Regions from separate parts of the Homo sapiens genome. Here all the other regions are linked to region 2. Evidence: fine-mapped expression QTL. A gene starts in region 2. Each other region holds a variant in brackets. All regions are shown on one strand. Distances are between the middles of the regions.

Region 1 (5,000 bases), 27 kb after region 2:
ACCAGGTCAACTTCTTGTGTCTGTGACTTGTGCGGTAGGATTGGTCTGGGAATGAATCTAACAGGCCCTTTTGGCTTTGTGAAGACTTGTTACTACCCAGGTTGTCTAGCATTCTGAGCTGTATGGGGAGCACAGTCATATTTTGGCTGTATTTCACTGGCAGTAGAAATCTTGACATTCCAATTTCCCTTGAGGGGTAGTAATTGTTTAGGGGTTGAAACTGGAGAGGAATCCAACATCTGGACATGGCAGGTACAGTAGCATTGGAGTCTGGCAGACTTGAGCCCAGATGACTGTTCCGCAACTAACTAAACAATATCCTTGGGCAAGTCATTTTCTTCATCTGGGGCTCTGGAGGGCCGTCTTTTTCCTCTGCCTAGATATTCTGGCTTGTGTGATAGCTCAGCCTTTAGGAATTGTTCTGGATTACTGCTTTTTATCTTCCTCAAAAAGTAGCCATCACTCCAAGTGCTGAGGTGACAAGGGGAGCGTCCTGTTGGCACTATCTCATGTTTTGGCTGTGGTATCCCTCTTTGAGGTGGGTAGGAGAGCCCAGGATGCTGGAGGCTCCTTGCCAGCAGTGTAGAGAGGGTCCACTCTAGAACAGTCTCCTGGCTTGTTCCCCTGCCCCACACCCCGCAACTTGTCTAGAGAGAACAGGGAGTCAAGTTTTTATTTCATGTTGGGCAGGAGAACCAAAGGCATCTGTAAAACCTCTGACAAATAAAGACGGTTAGAAATTAGAAAATTAATTCTCTACCAAATTATGAAAAAAAATCTGTTTAATGATGTTCACATTTAAGAAATGTTAATGTTATCTTTGTGAAGTTACTGCTATGAGATTTAGCATGTTTTTTCTCCCTCTTTGTAGGTACTGGTTTTGGATTAGGAATTGTTTTCTCACTTACCTTCTTTAAAAGTAAGTGTCACTCTGTCTTTTCAACATAATGTCATAGTGTATACATATACGTAGCAGGGACACTTCCAGAGGACACATTGGAACCCATCAATTTGTGGGTTGCCAACCCATCCATTTATGGGGTTAGGTAGCCCATTATAAAATGAATTAGATAAAGAATGTGGACTTGAAAGAGGTCAAAATGGGTTGGGCATCTCCAGCATTCCCCTGGGCACTGAGGCAGGGTGCCTGTTATCCTAAATATGATATCATTGCAAAAGCCTGTACTTGATGCCAGTGAGTCATTTGGCCAAGTCTACACGCTCAGATATTTCTAATTAATTGTGATTTTTTCTAGAGGAATTGAAAATGAGAATCCTGCTGGTAATAGAAACAAGTAGACCAGAAATACACATACTTCTTGGTCAAAAATTATCCTAAGCAAAGGGCAGGCAATATTCTTTTCATTCTGTGGAAGAACTTCTGAAGTTTGGATACCGAATAGATGCCAGAGGGATCCTTTTGACCTCTTTCCGTGAAGAACCAGTGGGAAATACTTGACTAGAGAATCATAATTAACACATAGTGCTGATATGAAAGAATCACTTACAGAGTGGCTTAAATAAACCCCATGACTTACTACTACAATCAAAGCATGTAAATATCGGTAAAATGCTTACATCTTTTTAGAATTCATGCATCTTACTGGCTAAGATATTAGTTAAACTGAGCAGATGATTAGAACTGATATAGAGAAGTTAAAAGGTTTATCTAGTGTTTTCATATTTTACTACTTTTTTTTTTTTTTTTTTTTGAAACGGAGTCTTGCTCTGTCGCCAGGCTGGAGTGCAGTGGTGCGATCTCAGCTCACTGCAACCTCCGCCTCCCTGGTTCAAGCGATTCCCCTGCCTCAGCCTCCCAAGTAGCTGGGATTACAGGCACACGCCACCATGCCTGGCTAATTTTTTTGTATTTTAGTAGAGACAGGGTTTCACCATGTTGGCTAAGATGGTCTCGATCTCCTGACCTCGTGATCCGCCCGCCTACGCCTCCCAGAGTGCGGGGATTACAGTTGTGAGCCACCGCGCCTGGCCTTTACTACTTATTTTCCTCAAACTTATCAGCATAGGCACTTAACAAGTATTTGCTAAATTAATAACTTCACTAATTTACACCTCTTTTTTGGGGCCATTGTGAAACATTGATAAAAATGTATGGTTATTATAGTCATTAGTATGATGCACGTTGAATATTTATTGAACCCTAAGTAAATGTATTTAAGAGGATGGGGAGCTTTATCTTCTCTTAATAATTCCCTATTGGGATTTTCCCTTTTTTGCTCACTAGGAAGAATGTGGCCATTAGCCTTCGGTTCTGGCATGGGATTAGGAATGGCTTATTCCAACTGTCAGCATGATTTCCAGGCTCCATATCTTCTACA[T/C]GGAAAATATGTCAAAGTATGTACAGAATATATATTTCTCTTTCCTTCAGAAGAAAAAGATTTCTCCTGAGCCCTGAAGAATTCTTTAGACTGTTTGTAATGAGTAAACCATGTGTGTCATTGTGGCACCACTCTCAGATACTAATTGCTCTTTGGCCTTCAGTGATGTCATCACTGCTTTGGTGCTAAAGTCTCCCCTGTGCCTTCAGATGCGTATGTACGTTCAGATATATACTCATGTGCTAGCCGATTGGAATTAAGGAGCCTGCTTGAATGTTTATCATCAATGGTAAGGTAGATTGTGTTAACTATCTGTAAGTAGCACTTTTCATTTAAGAGCTCAGAGTGCCCTGTAAACATCTCACATATACTTAAGCTAAACCCAAAGACTTCCGGGACTCAGCCATGATTCTGCTTTTTATTAATTTGTTTCATTTTTTTGAGACGGAGTCTTGCTTTGTCGCCCAGGCAGGAGTGCAGTGGTGCCATCTTGGCTCACTGCAACCGGGTTCAAGTGATTCTCCTGCCTCAGCTTCCTGAGTAGCTGGGATTACAGGCACCTGCCACCACGCCTGGCTGATTTTTGTATTTTAGTAGAGACGGAGCTTCACCATGTTGGCCAGGCCGTGGTTCTGCTTTTTAATTGAAGAAGGCAGTCTGGACTGTAAGTCTCACATTCTACTGAAGTCCTGTCTTCAGGTGGATTTTTATTTTTATTTTATTTTATTTATTTTGTGGGGATGGAGTATCACTCTGCCACCAAGGTGGGAGTGCAGTGGCACAATCTTGGCTCACTGCGACCTCTGCCTCCCGGGTTCAAGCGATTCTTCTGCCTCAGCCTCCCGAGTAGCTGGGATTACAGGCACGAGCCACTCACGCCCGGCTAATTTTCGTATTTTTAGTAGAGGTGGGGTTTCACCATGTTGGCCAGGCTGGTCTTGAACTCCTGACCTCAGGTGATCCACCCGTCTCGGCCTCCCAAAGTGCTGGGATTATAGGTGTGAGCCACTGTGCCTGGCCTTCAGGTGGATTTTTAATGCTGCACACAAGCTGGAAACTTCTTACCCACACCTCCAAAGGGAAGAGGGCAGCAGGCTTCCTCAGGGCTTCGTGTGTAGCAGTATTTTCCTTACTTGATGATTAGTTACTGTGGGGTTTAAGTGACAGGAACATTGGAGGCTGGGTGCCCAAGGACAGAGGTGGCACTTATTTTGTATTCCCAGGGCCTGAAACAAAATAGCACTCAAATAAATGTAAAATGAATGAATGAGGTAAATTATTCTATTAGAGGTAAGTGCCGATGGCCTCAGGCTTACTAAGGCATAACCTTTGTAGCAGCACAATTTTCAGTGAACAACTTCACATTCCCTGCATGCACAGAAGCCTCAGCTTTCCAGGTTACTCTTGGGCTAGAATCACTGTGAACGGGGCTGCAGTGGGGCTAGTGGAAAGGGCACAGAAGCCAGGAGACCTAGGTGCAAGCCTGTCACTTGCTTCCTGTGTGATCTTAAGTTGTTTCACTTCTGAGCTTCCATTTTCCTCCATAAAATGAGGGTAATAATTTCTACCTATAGTGTTGTTGTGAGATTTAGACACAAAATGTTTTTAAGCTGTGAAGTACGAAATATATAAAAACATTGGTTATTATAGATGAGGCCAGCCCAAAAAGGGTGATTGACTTGTCCATTGTTCCACTGTAACAACAAGTAGAGTGGAAAATGTGGTACAAATGCATGTCCTAATTCTAGTCAGGAGCTGTGGCCACAAGGGCCACCAAATCCAAAGTAGCAGTATCCTGCCACGGCCCTGCACCTGCCATTTTAGAACCTGCTGAAACCGTCAGCTGCCTGCAGCCAGCCCATGTCTGCTGGAGAGATGGGAGTAGGGGAGCCATCTCTGCACCAAAGCAAGAGTGAGGTCATCACAGGGACCATGCAAGAAGAGGCGCAGCTGTGTGGCACTGAAGCCGGCAGCCGGCCTTTTCCACCACTCCCTGGCTCCTCGCTTTCCTGGCATCAGAGCTGATTGTGGGGAGAACCGAAAGGAGCAGACAGAGAAGCTTCAGGTCTTTTGCTTAAAACATTTCCATTGTTCCAAACTGAGTTGTCAGGGATAATGGCTCAGGGGTGATTATATGCATATTATGTATTTAATGGCTGGGAGTTCCTGTGGAAAATATTGTTCCATTTTTTACATTTGTGTGTCCTGCTCCAAAATGGCCTTGTAACTTTATCTGGACTTGAGTCTGTGCCTCGATGTTGTCATCCTCCATTCCCTGAAAAATGGAGCAAAATCCCAACCTGGGCTTATTCAGTGTAGTCCTATTGTAATAACTGCCTCCTGAGTGCCCAATCTGCCCCCAGGACCATCCTGGGTGCTTTATCTTTAATAATCTTTCCCTCTAGACCTGCCAGTTGATTTGTGAGAGATGTTACTATCCTCATTCAGCTGATGAGAAAGCAGACTCTTACCGGGGTTGAGAAACTTGGCAAGGCCATGTAGTTCGTAGGCTGATGAGAACCATGCTCTCCCCACTCCCCTGGGACGCCTTCGACAGGTTTTAGGAATTGTTATCCAGGTCATGATGGTTTGGCCCTGTTCCACTCGTTTCCCACTCTTCTCCCTGGAAGATTGGGGCTGGATGGCACTCTTAGGAACCTA
Region 2 (5,000 bases):
ACCTTGTGAGCCACCCGCCTCGGCCTCCCAAAGTGCTGGGTTACAGGCGTGAGCCACCGTGCCCGGCCTTATTTATTAATTTTTATGTCCATTCGACAAGCATTTATTGAGAATCCGATATATACCAAGCTCTCTGCTAAGCATTAGGGATACAGAAATGGCACGGCCTCCATTCTCAATTTGCTCACAGTCAAAATCCAAAAGACACACAAATAATTGTTAAAATTACAAACAATTATTAAAAACACAAATCATCTGATAAGTAGCTGTGATGAGAATTAGAAGGGGCTGGGCATGGTGGTTCAGGCCTATAATCCTAGTACTTTGGGAGGACAAAGTGGGAGGATGGCTTGAGCCCAGGAGTTCGAGACCAGCCTGGGCAGCATAGCAAAACCTCACCTCTATAAAAAAGGAAAAGCAAAGAAAAATTTAAAGAATAGGAAAAATAGGGCTGGGCATGATGGCTCAAGCCTGTAATCCCAGCACTTTGGGAGGCTGAGGTGGGTGGTTCACCTGAGGTCAGGAGTTCAAGACCAGCTTGGCCAACATGGTGAAACCCCATCTCTACTAAAAATACAAAAATTAGCTGGGGGTGGTGGCACGTGCTTGTAATCCCAACTACTCAGGTGGCTGAGACAGGAGAATCTCTTGAACCTGGGAGGCAGAGGTTGCAGTGAGCCAAGATCATGCCACTGCACTCCAGCCTGGGTGACAGAGCAAGACTCTGTCTCAAAAAAAAAAAAAAAAAGAAAGAATAATTTAAAAAAATAGAGAACTAGGAGAAGGGAAGGGTGGTCATAGAAGTTATCTTGAAGGAAGAGGCTGTCGTAGCAAGATCTGATACAACAGAGTTTTGCTGTCATAGTTGCAAATAAATAGTTGAACGATGCCTGTAATCCCAGCACTTTGGGAGGCCAAGGTGGGTGGATCACTTGAGGCCAGGAGTCAAGACCAGCCTGGCCAATATGGCGAAACCCCATCTCTACTAAAAAAATACAAAAAGTTAGCCAGGCGTGGTGGTGGGCGCCTGTAATCCCAGCTATTTTGGAGGCTGAGGCAGAAGAATTGCTCAAACCCAGTAGGCAGAGGTTGCAGTGAGCCGAGATCGTGCCACTGCACTCCAGCCTGGGCAACAGAGCGCGACTCTCTCTCAATAAATAAATAAACAAATAAATAGGTGAATAAATTCAATTCAGTTCAACAAATATTTCATAGAAGACCCTACTATCCAAGGCATTGTGCTCTGACTGGAAGTATGAAGACGAAGGGGCAACTTCTAGTTCTACTAGCAGATAATATCTACAACCAGATGTTTCAGTACTAGATAGAGAAATCAATGCGGGTAGGCAGGGTAGTGGGACAATGAGAAGGGGAAGGCAGCTCTAAGCTCTATCTGACTAGGCTTCCTAGAATCAGTGCAGTGTTGAAGCTTGGATAGATCCAGTGTATGAATGGGAGTCATTGACAGCTTTTTTTTTTTTTCTTTTGTGATAGGGTATCACTCTGATGCCCAGGCTGGAGTGCAGTGGCATGAACATGGCTCAGTGTAGCCTCCACTTCCCAGGCTCAAGTGATCCTCCTACCTCAGCCTCCTAAGTAGCTGGGACTAAAGGCACACATCACATTAGCCTGGCTAATTTTTTAAATTTTTTGTAGAGACAGGAGTCTCACTATGCTGCCTAGGCTGGTCTTGAACTACTGGCCTCAAACAATCCTCCCGCCTCAGCCTCCCAGAGTGTTGGGATTACAGGTGTGAGCCACTGCTCTCGGCCTTCATTGACAGCTTCTAATCAGAGGCATAACGTGGTCAGATTTCTATTTGTTGGTAGGATGGAAGACTAAAATCAATGACACTAGCCAGTAGGCTGGATATACAATCTCTCTTGATAGCTGTGGGCATTTGGTTTCAGGATCTCGCAGTTACCAAAATGCAGGATGCTCAAGTCCCATATATAAAATGGCGTGGTATTTGCATACAACCTACACACATGCTTACATATCCTTTTTTAAAATTACTTATTTTTTTTTAAAGAGATGAAGTCGAACTCCTAGTCTCAAGCAATCCTCCCATCTCAGCCTCCCAAGTAGCTGGGACTACGGTCGCATGCCACTGCGCTGGCTCCCATATACTTTAAATCATCTCTAGGTTACTTATAATACCTAATACAATGTAAATCCTAGGTAAATAGTTGTACTGTATTTTAAATTTTGCATTATTTTTTATTTGATTCAAAAATGTTTCTGGTCCATGGTTGGTTAAATCCATGGATGCAAAACCCACAGATACAGAGGGCACCCTGTGTATGTATGTGTATGTGTGTGTGTGTGTGGGTGGGTGTGTAAATATATACATGGATAGGAGGCCTGAGGTAGACGTTTTACCTGGAGATATAATTTGGCAGTGTTTGCAATTACTCAGGGAGAGTCTGTACAGTGAAAAGAGAATTGATGGAAGCTTGCGAACCAACAGTCCTTAAACAGCTGGCAGAGAAAAGGCAGCCCTGGAGGAAACCAACAGACAACAGCAGATGGGGAGAAGAGGAAAGAGTGGCGTTACCGGGAGTGAAACGAATAGAGGAGCCAGGGAGGATCAGAGGGAGGGAAAATTGTGTGGAATGCGGTACAGAGGTCAGAAAAGAGTCCATTTGATTTGGCGGTAGGTAATCTTTCCCAGAGCAGTTTCGGTGTTAGTGGTTCAGGCGGGAATTCCAATGCAAGAAACCAGTGAACGAATGAGAGAGTGAGTAGGGAAAGTGAAGGTGAGTACGTTAATGAATGAATAAATCAAGTCTGTACCCTCTCTTGCCCGGGGGATTTCCAGGGCCAATGTCGCACTTTGGTGAGGAGGAAAGGCCTGGTCACGGCTTGGGGTGACGCCTAGGAAACTGTCAGCCTCGCAAACCCATAGGCGCAGCCCCAAGGTCAGGGTCACCTCGAGCCTCCAGACAACTCGTCACCTTGACGACCAACTGAAAAAACCGGAAGGGATGGAAGCAGCGGATCATCTCGCGATATCTGGAGCGTCTGCGCCTGCCTTCCTGACCTGGGACTTGTTTCCAGCTCTCGCGAGACTTTCAGGGGTCGGAGCGCGGGGGCCGGCCGAGAGGAAAGCTGGAGGCGCGGGTGGGGAACATGTCTGAGTCGGAGCTCGGCAGGAAGTGGGACCGGTGTCTGGCGGATGCGGTCGTGAAGATAGGTAAGGGGCTTTTCGCCCCAGCAGGCCCGGCCGGTGCAGAGCTGCTGGCTCCAGGCTGCGCTGCCCAGGAGGAAGGAAGGGAAGCCCCACGGGAGGTCAGGCCTCTCGGCCTTTTCCGGCCCCTCCGGCCAGGGCGAGCCGCCCGGGCCCCGGCGGGAGGTCACTCGGGCGGCGGGCACAGACCCGAGGAGCCGGAGCAGCAGCCCGGGTGCGGGGTGGAGTTGCAGCCCGGAGGAGGTGGTCGGGGTTGGCAGGTGGCAGGAGAGTCGCAGAGCTCTTGAGTGGAAGACAGTGTCGGGGCACACCCTCGTGCCGGAGCCGCGGGGTTCTCCTCCCGGGTGGTGCATTCCCCGGCACGCGGCGGGGAACCGGCTCAGGAGGCCACGCTGCTCCCCGGCGGAAACCAAAGTGCCTTCTGGAGAAGGTCACCTGGAGCATTTCATAGACACCGCCAGGCCCTGATGCGAGTTGCTGTCATTCCCGACTTGCCACCTGATTTATTTGAATCAGAGTAGTCTGGGGCCTGAACTTAGAGGGGTGATGATCTGGAATGAGAATTGCGCTGGAAAGTAAGAAGTTGTTCACGTTAAGTTTTTCTGCGTAGTCCTTTAACACGTGCTCAGTGACGGCACAAATTATGAAGTCACTGTATGGTGGGGAGGAGAAAGGAAACTCGTTTATTGAGCGTATATTGTCTTCATTGTGCGAAATAATCTTTTTACAGGCCGTGAAATGGAGAGTCAGGTGAAGGAATTTGCCCACGGTCACAGCTAACAAATGGCAAAATTAGGGATTTTACCCAGCTTTTCTGGGGTCAAGTCCCATGTTCCTTCTTCGATGCTAATTTTTGTTACCCAAATGTGATATTTTTGTGTGGTAATCTTAGGGTATTTAAGAGGATTTAGGATTGTGTCTTTGAATGAAAACATTGAGGAATAAGATTGTAAGCTCCATGAGAGCAGGGATGTTTTCTGGTTTAGTCACTGCCCCATCCCCAGCCCCTAAAAGAGTGCTTAATAAAAATTGTTGAGAGTGAGTCAATAAATGAAACAGTTTATAAGTTACCATTTCACCTCTGAATTCAGCACTTACAGTCAAGTGATTTGGGGCAAGTTATTTAACTTTTCTGTGCCTGATTCCTATTTGGAAATCGGCAGTAATAATTATTACTATCTCATGGAGTCGTTGGGAGGATTAAATGAGTTAGTTTGTTTAAAGGCTTGAATATGGATCACTTAGGAATGGGTTATTTTGGAAGCGACTAAACAGTCACTTTTGTTTTGTTACTGTTAACAGCTTGCAGTTCAGAGAGAAGACTTAACACCTAGCTATGAAATGACCAAAGTAGTTACTAGGCAATGTCATATAGTTAAGAAAGGGCTTTGAGCTGGGCGAAGTGGCTCAGGCCTGTAATCCCAGCACTTTGGGAGGCCGAGGCGGGAGGATCGCCTGAGATCAGGAGTTGGAGACCAGCCTGGGAAACAAAGTGAGACCCTTCCCTTAAAAAAAAAAAAAAGGAGAAGAAGAAGAAGGGGCTTTGGAGGTAGACAGAGCTGAGTTCGAATCATCCACTCTCACTCTTCTCGCCCATCCTTACTAATTTTGTAGCTTTGGGTAAAGTCTCTTTCTCAACTACGAAATGGTGATCAAAAGAGATTTACCTGAAAGTATTAAAAAAAGTAAAGGACAGAAAAATACATAAGCTACTTAGCACAGTGCCTGGTGCTTTATGTATACAGTAATGGTAGTCATAATAACTGGCTTTTAAAATTTTTTAATGTATTTTATTTATATTTATTTTTAA
Region 3 (6,921 bases), 69 kb before region 2:
TTTTGAAATCTGTTGTGTATTATACACTTACAGCATATCTCAATTTGGCCTCACCATATATTTTGAGTGCTCAGTAGCCACATGTGGCCACCGTATTGAACAGCACAGGGCTACAGTTGGTTGATAAGGACTCTGGAAACACTATTTTGGGGGATTTTCTCTTTTTATTTTTTAATTTTTTTTAGAGACAGGGTCTTGCTCTGTTGTCCAGGCTAGAGTGCAGTGACACAATTATAGCTCATTACAGCCTCAAACTCCTGGACTCCAAGCAACCTTCCTGCCTTAGCCTCCTGAGTAACTAGGACTACAGGCACACACCATCACTCCTAGCTAATTTTTTGTTTTTATTTTTATTTTTAGAGATAGGGGTATCACTCTGTTGGCCTAGGTTGGTCTCGAACACCTAGCCCCAAAGGATCCTCCTCCCTCGGTCTCTCAAAGCTCTGGGATTGTAGGTGTCAGTCACCGCACCAGGCCAGATATTCTCTTTCTTACTTCAAATATTGTCTAGTTCTCAGGATGTCTTTTTCATGACTGCAGAAGGACTTCCCATAGAAACTAGAACAATGTGTTTCTAGTTTACATTCAAAAAGACTGAGAACTTAGCAAAATTTTCCAGTATCTCTTTGGCCCACATTGGCCTCGACCTGCCATCCCTGAACCAAACATTAGCAAAAAAAAAAAAAAGAAAAAAAAGGTGGGTGATTGATTAGACTAATCAGAGGCCTAGAGGTGGCATCAATTCCTTGAGCCTCTCAGCCATTATTCTGCGGAGGAGAGATGGAGAGGATGTTGAGTGCCGAGCCCAAAGTCATCTACTTTAGGGAAGGTTCTAGCACCCAGAAATACCATCCAGCAGGCTCAAAATCTTCTCCACCAGCTGGGTGCAGTGGCTCATGCCTGTAATCCCAGCACCTTAGGAGGTTGAAACGGGAGGATCACTGGAGCCCAGGAGTTTGAGACCAGCCTGGGCAGCACAGCAAGACCCCACCTCTACAAAAAAAATTTTTAAAAATCAGCCAGGTGTGGTGGTGCGCCCCTGTACTCCCAGCTATTCAGGATGCTGTGGTGGGAGGATGGCTTGACCTGAGCCCATGAGGTTGAGGCTGCAGTGAGCCGTAGTCATGCCATTGCACTCCAGCCTGAGTGACAGAGCGAGGCCTTGTCTCAAAAGAACAACAAAACTTCTCCACCATTCATGGGACAAGAAAGCGCAACTCCTCCAGGGACCACCTTCAATGACCTTTGCCATGAAGAAGCAAAGAGCTCTTTTTTTTTTCCTTCTTTTTTTTTTTTTTCGAGAGGTTCTCCCTCTGTCACCCAAGCTGGAACACAGTGGTGTGATCACAGCTCACTGCAGCCTCGACCTCCTGGGATCAAGCAATTCTTCCACCTCAGCCTCCTGAGTAGCTGTAACTACAGGCGCACATCATCACGCCTGGCTAATTTTTGTATTTTTTTTGTGTAGAGATGGGGTTTCACCATGTTGCCCAGGCTGATCTCAAACTCCTGGACTCAAGGGATCTGCCTGCCTCAATCTCCCAAAATGCTGGGATTATAGATGTGAGCCACTGCACCCAGCCAAAAAGCTCATTTATACCATCTTTTTTCAAGCTGGCATGGAGCTGAGCTGTTACCAGTGATGTATGAGACTTCCCTAGGAAAACAAGACCCCAAAATTCCAGTCTTTCAGCACAGTATAGACAGCGCAGTGTAGTGAAGCAGCCCTTCCCTGGTTTCTGCACCTGTTCTACCCACCTCTCAGTTGTGGGACCTCAGGCAGAGCACATAGCTGTCCTGGTTGTGTTTCCCATTTGTAAAGTACAGGCTTACATTACAACACGAGTGAGTGTTCACCCATTGTTCTTCCTTTTAATGACATTTTACAAGGAAGCCCAACATAAAAGCAGATAAAAGCAAAGCTTCTCTGCTTGTAGTGAGAACAGGGACCTGGCCTTTCCCTCAGTAGAGCCACTGAGTCATTCTTTAACAAACACTTAAATTGTATTTACTTTAAGCTCAGCTCTAAGTGTATTACATGCATTAATTTAATATTTTACTTAAATCTTCTTAGTAACCCTGTGAAGTGGGCATTATAATGATCCACAATTTCCATGAGGGAGTTGAAGCCCAATGGAGTTGAGCAACTTGCTGAAGGTCACACAGCTCGTAAGTCACAGAGCCAAGATTCAAACCCAGACACTCAACTCCAGGATCCACGTCTCTATCTTTTTAAAGCCCAGTGACTCCACAAACCAGCTCAAAGCCACTCCGCTGGATGATGCCTAAGATACCCTTCAGTCTTCAAGTGTGTCAGCCTATGAGTAATAGTCTGGTGTGTTGCTTGTTTATTTCAGCATAGTAGACATCCTCAATCGAAATCCCACTGTCCAGCCTCCAGCACTCCATGCATGGGTGCAAGTGAGAGTGGTGGTAGGAAGAGCGATGGAGAGGGCATGTCTTCTGCAGATCCTCGATAAGTCTAAGTCCAGGCAGCTCACTCCAGTCCACTTCAACTAAAACCCATGGACTCTTATTTCAGGCTTTTGACTCTACTCCTACACCATAATCTCAGGAGGAGTATATTTTTCTAACCTCAACTCACATATTCACGGGGAATATGGGAGAGAATTGTAGTAGTAAAGGTTATCCTGGATATGGAGTGTCCCCAGAATCCTGATCACCCAACCTATAGCCCTGTGCTGTCCAATATGGTGGCCACATGTGGCTACTGAGCACTCAAAATATATGGTGAGGCCAAACTGAGATATGCTGTAAGTGTAAAATACACAACAGATTTTGATGACTTAGGATGAAACTTATA[T/G]GATGTACTTGGATCAGTCAAACTCATAGAGACAAACTAGAAGAGCAGTTACTAGGGGCTGAAGGGAGGATGGAATGAGGAATTATTTTTTAATGGGTACAGAGTTTCAGTTTTGAAAGATAAAAAAGTTCTGGAGATAAATAGTGCAAGCAATGTGAATCTACTTAATACCACTGAATTATACACTAAAAAATGGTTGAAATAGTAAATTTTATGTTATAGATTATATAAATATAGATTTATAAATAATTTTGGTATTATAGCATACATATATTAATATATACATATTAAAATATTCATGATATATAAATATTTTACGCATATATGTAAATACATATACACATATGTAGATATACACATATTATAATATATACATATTATGTATTTATGCAATGTATATACATATTAGTATACATATTAATATGTACATATCATAAATTAATACATATTATTCAATAATAAATATAAATTATATTACATGAATATTATATAATTGATATGTATATAATGTATATATAATATGTATATATACAGACTATGTATTATGCATTATATATTATATATACACATAATGTGTATATACACATATTATATATGTATACATATTATATATAACATGTATATATTTATACATATTATATTATTATATTTTTATCACTAGGTATATGTATGTTTATATATAAATATATAGTGGTAAAATATATACTTATATATATTAAAAGGTGGCTGTATATATAGTCATAAAATAAATATAACAAAATTTAAATAAATAATGTCTACTTCATGGGGAGATATATGTGTGTGTATGTGGTGTATATATACAATGGTAAAATATATACAGTGGGCCGGGAGCAGTGGTTCATGCCTGTAATCCCAGTACTTTGGGAGGCTGAGGTGGATGGATCACCTGAGATCAGGAGTTTGAGACCAGTCTGGCCAACATAGTGAAACCTCGTCTCTACTAAAAAAAAAAAAAAAAAAAAAATACAAAAAATTAGCCAGGTTTGGTGGTGTGCACCTATAATCCCAGCTACTCGGGAGGCTGAGGGAGGAGAATCGCATGAACCCAGGAGGTGGAGGTTGCAGTGAGCTGAGATTGTGCCACTGCACTCCAGCCTGGGTGACAGTGCAAGACTTTGTCACAAAAAATAAAATAAAAAATATGAAAAAATATATATAGTGGGTATATATATATATATAAAATAGTGGTCATATATATAGTGGTAAAATATATGTTACATAAAATTTAAATAAATAATGTCTACTTCATAGGGAGAGATATGTGTGTGTATGTGCATATGTGTATGCATATATATATATATATATATATATATATATATATATATATATATGAAGACCCTACTGGAAAATTTACAATGTGTTGACTGTATTTTAGTTGGGGAACAGATTCACTGTAGCGCAATTCTCAGCTCTGTTCTGCCACTTATTCTGTCACCGCTTTGAGGAGGTTAGATCAGAGATTTGATAGTCAGTTAAACCTAGGGTACACTCTTAGCTCTACCACTTGCTAGCTGTGGGACCAATACAAGTTACTAAAAAACAAAAAATATCAACTAATATTTATTAATTGATTGAGCATTTTCATTTATGGCAGGCACTGTACTGAGCATTTTACATACATTGTTCATTTCATCCTCATAATCACCCCATACCATATAGTCTACCATTTATTCCCACATTACATAAAGTGAGGCACAGAGAGGTGAAGTTGGCTAAGGTCACACAGTCAGCACGTGGGAGAAGCAGGACTCATCCCACAAAGCCAACTTCCCCATCAGACACCGCAAGCACAGGGCCCATGAGGCTTTATTTTATTCTAATAACATTGTTTTATTTTAATTTGTTTTAAACTTGGAAGAAAAACATAAATATAATAATAATGAGCATATAATAATGAATTCAGCAAGGCACAGTGGCTCACACCCATAATCCCAGCACTTTGGGAAACCAAAGCAGAAGGATCACTTGAGTCCAGGAGGTTGAGACCAGCCTGGGCAACATAGTGAAACCTCATCTCTATTATTACATTTTTTAAAATTAAAAAATAAAAAAATACATTTTAAAAATAGTGACTTCAGTCTGGATTAGATTTAACTTCATTCCAACATAGTCGTGAAATATAAAGTTAAATTTTTTTATGGAGGGAAGGGGCCCACAGAGGCAAGATTGCCTAGGGTCCATGAAATCAGGCCCCCTCACTGCAGGCCCCGGGCTTAAACTGTTACAGTTTACCAGCTCTCCGCACCCCAGCAAACCTGCTTGAAGACCATATATCTATGCGCACCCAGACAAGTCGTCCGTTTTGTATTTTCTCTCTCTTTTTTTTTTTTTTTTTTTTGAGACAGAGACCAGGCTGGAGTGCAGTGACGCGATCTCGACTCACTGCAACCTCTGCCTCCCAGGTGCAAGTGATTCTCCTGTCTCAGCCTCCCAAGTAGCTGGGATTGTAGGCATGCGCCACCATGCCTGGCTAATATTTGTATTTTTGGTAGAGATGGGGTTTCACCATGTTGGCCAGGCTGTTCTCGAACACCTGATCTCAAGTGATCCACCCACCTCGGACTTCCAAAGTGCTGGGATTACAGGCGTGAGCCACTGCGCCTGGCCCAAGTTGTCCTTTTTGTGTCTCAGTTTCCCCCTCTGTAAGATGGGAATAATAAAGAGTATTGACTTGTGTATGGCCATGAAGACACTGAGTAAATGTGCACACCTAAACCCCGTGCCTGACGCTCAGCAAAGGCTCCATAACATTTAGCTACATCTGACCTCATTCCTTGGGGCAGCAACAGGGTCTGGAGGTTTTCTCAGAGAGCCAGCTGTCTGACAGCCTCGGCGCAGCAACACCTCATCAGACACACCAGGAATTCCACAGCATCTTCACAGCAGACTCTGGAGAGATTCTGATCTAGTCTTCAACCAACCAGGGGAAATCCACGCTTGTGAAAACTTCCAGGCACCAGCAATAATTTCCCCCCTTCCCACGCTCCTCCCCAGTCTCCTGGGCCCTTTTCCATCTAGCTCTGTTTCTGCAGGAAGCAGGACAAAAAGGATTCCATTTTAAGCAAGTGTAGAAGAAAGAGCACAGACTCGGCACTCTTGGGACCTGGCTTTGCAGCTCGGCTCTGCCAAAAACAACGTTGGACAATTCACTCATGCTCTCTGAGCCTCAGAGTTGTCAGCTAGGTAACAGGAATCCATCATTAAAACAGTAATAATAACTGTCACTGTTATTACTAGAACACTCTATGGTGTAAGCATACAGACTTTCAGGTCAGAGTCCTTTGGTTCTGCCATGGCCTGGATGTCTGTGATCTGCACCCCTCCCAAATTCATACATTGAAATCCTAACCCCCAAAGTGATGGTATTAGGAGGTGGGGCCTTTTGGAGGTGACAGGTCATAAGGGTGAGCCCTCATGAATGTGATTAGTACCTTTGTAAAAGAGGCTCTAGAGAGACCCCTCACCCCTTCTACTACGTGAGGACACAGTGAGGAGATGCTATCTGTGAACCAGAAAGTAGGCCCTTATCAGATACTGAATTTGCTGATGTCACAGCCACTGGAACTGTGAGAAGTAAGTGGTTGTTGATTATAAGCCATGCAGTTGATGGTGTTTTTTTGTTATAGCAGCCCAAACAGACTAAGATTCACATCACGGGTTCTACCCCTTGAAAGTACATGACCTTCCCTTTCTAAGGTTTCTCATTTGTAAATGGGGAATAATAACAGCCCCCACCTCAAAGGGTTATTGGGATAATTAAATGAGATAATTAAATCCAAAGATCTTTGTAGTACTGGGCACACAGTAAGTGCTAGATAAAGGCCAGCAATTGTTGTTGTTATTATTATTATTATTATTATTGAGACAGGATCTCACTTTGTCACCCAGGCTGGAGTGCAGTGATGCAATCTTGGCTCACTGAAGCCTCTGCCTCCGAGGCTCATGGTCCTCCCACCTCAGTCTCCCTAGTAGCTGGGACTACAGGCACACACCACTACATCTGGGTAATTTTTTTATTTTTTGTAGAGATAGGATTTCACCATGTTGCCCAGGCTGGTCGCAAACTCCTGAGCTCA

Evidence for each region. PIP is the estimated chance that this variant, and not a neighbour inherited with it, causes the effect. A credible set is the group of variants that fine-mapping cannot tell apart.
Region 1: its variant is the best candidate, but not a certain one, in a credible set for the expression of MICOS10 in whole blood (TOPMed, PIP 0.64).
Region 3: its variant is the best candidate, but not a certain one, in a credible set for the expression of MICOS10 in whole blood (INTERVAL, PIP 0.88).

Annotation. Positions count from the first base shown.
Region 1 is chr1:19,621,229-19,626,228 of GRCh38, forward strand. All of the region lies in intron 1 of MICOS10-NBL1 (MICOS10-NBL1 readthrough), which reads left to right. MICOS10 (mitochondrial contact site and cristae organizing system subunit 10) reads left to right here. Exons shown (of 4, transcript NM_001032363.4): 2 at 872-919; 3 at 2,246-2,355. Among named protein-coding and RNA genes, the nearest start is that of NBL1, 21 kb to the right of the region's middle. The variant T/C (reference allele first, on the strand shown) is at 2,340.
Region 2 is chr1:19,593,914-19,598,913 of GRCh38, forward strand. It overlaps MICOS10 (mitochondrial contact site and cristae organizing system subunit 10), which reads left to right and starts at 3,066. Exons shown (of 4, transcript NM_001032363.4): 1 at 3,066-3,196. The coding sequence starts at 3,133. It overlaps MICOS10-NBL1 (MICOS10-NBL1 readthrough), which reads left to right and starts at 3,066. Exons shown (of 4, transcript NM_001204089.2): 1 at 3,066-3,196. It overlaps MICOS10-DT (MICOS10 divergent transcript), which reads right to left and starts at 2,919. Exons shown (of 2, transcript NR_135054.1): 1 at 2,797-2,919. RefSeq lists an enhancer at 2,859-3,158 and a silencer at 3,279-3,488.
Region 3 is chr1:19,524,054-19,530,974 of GRCh38, forward strand. It overlaps LOC105376819 (a long non-coding RNA gene), which reads left to right. Exons shown (of 4, transcript XR_947020.3): 3 at 2,075-2,335. LOC105376817 (a long non-coding RNA gene) reads right to left here and starts at 5,792. Exons shown (of 4, transcript XR_947017.3): 1 at 5,612-5,792. The variant T/G (reference allele first, on the strand shown) is at 2,825.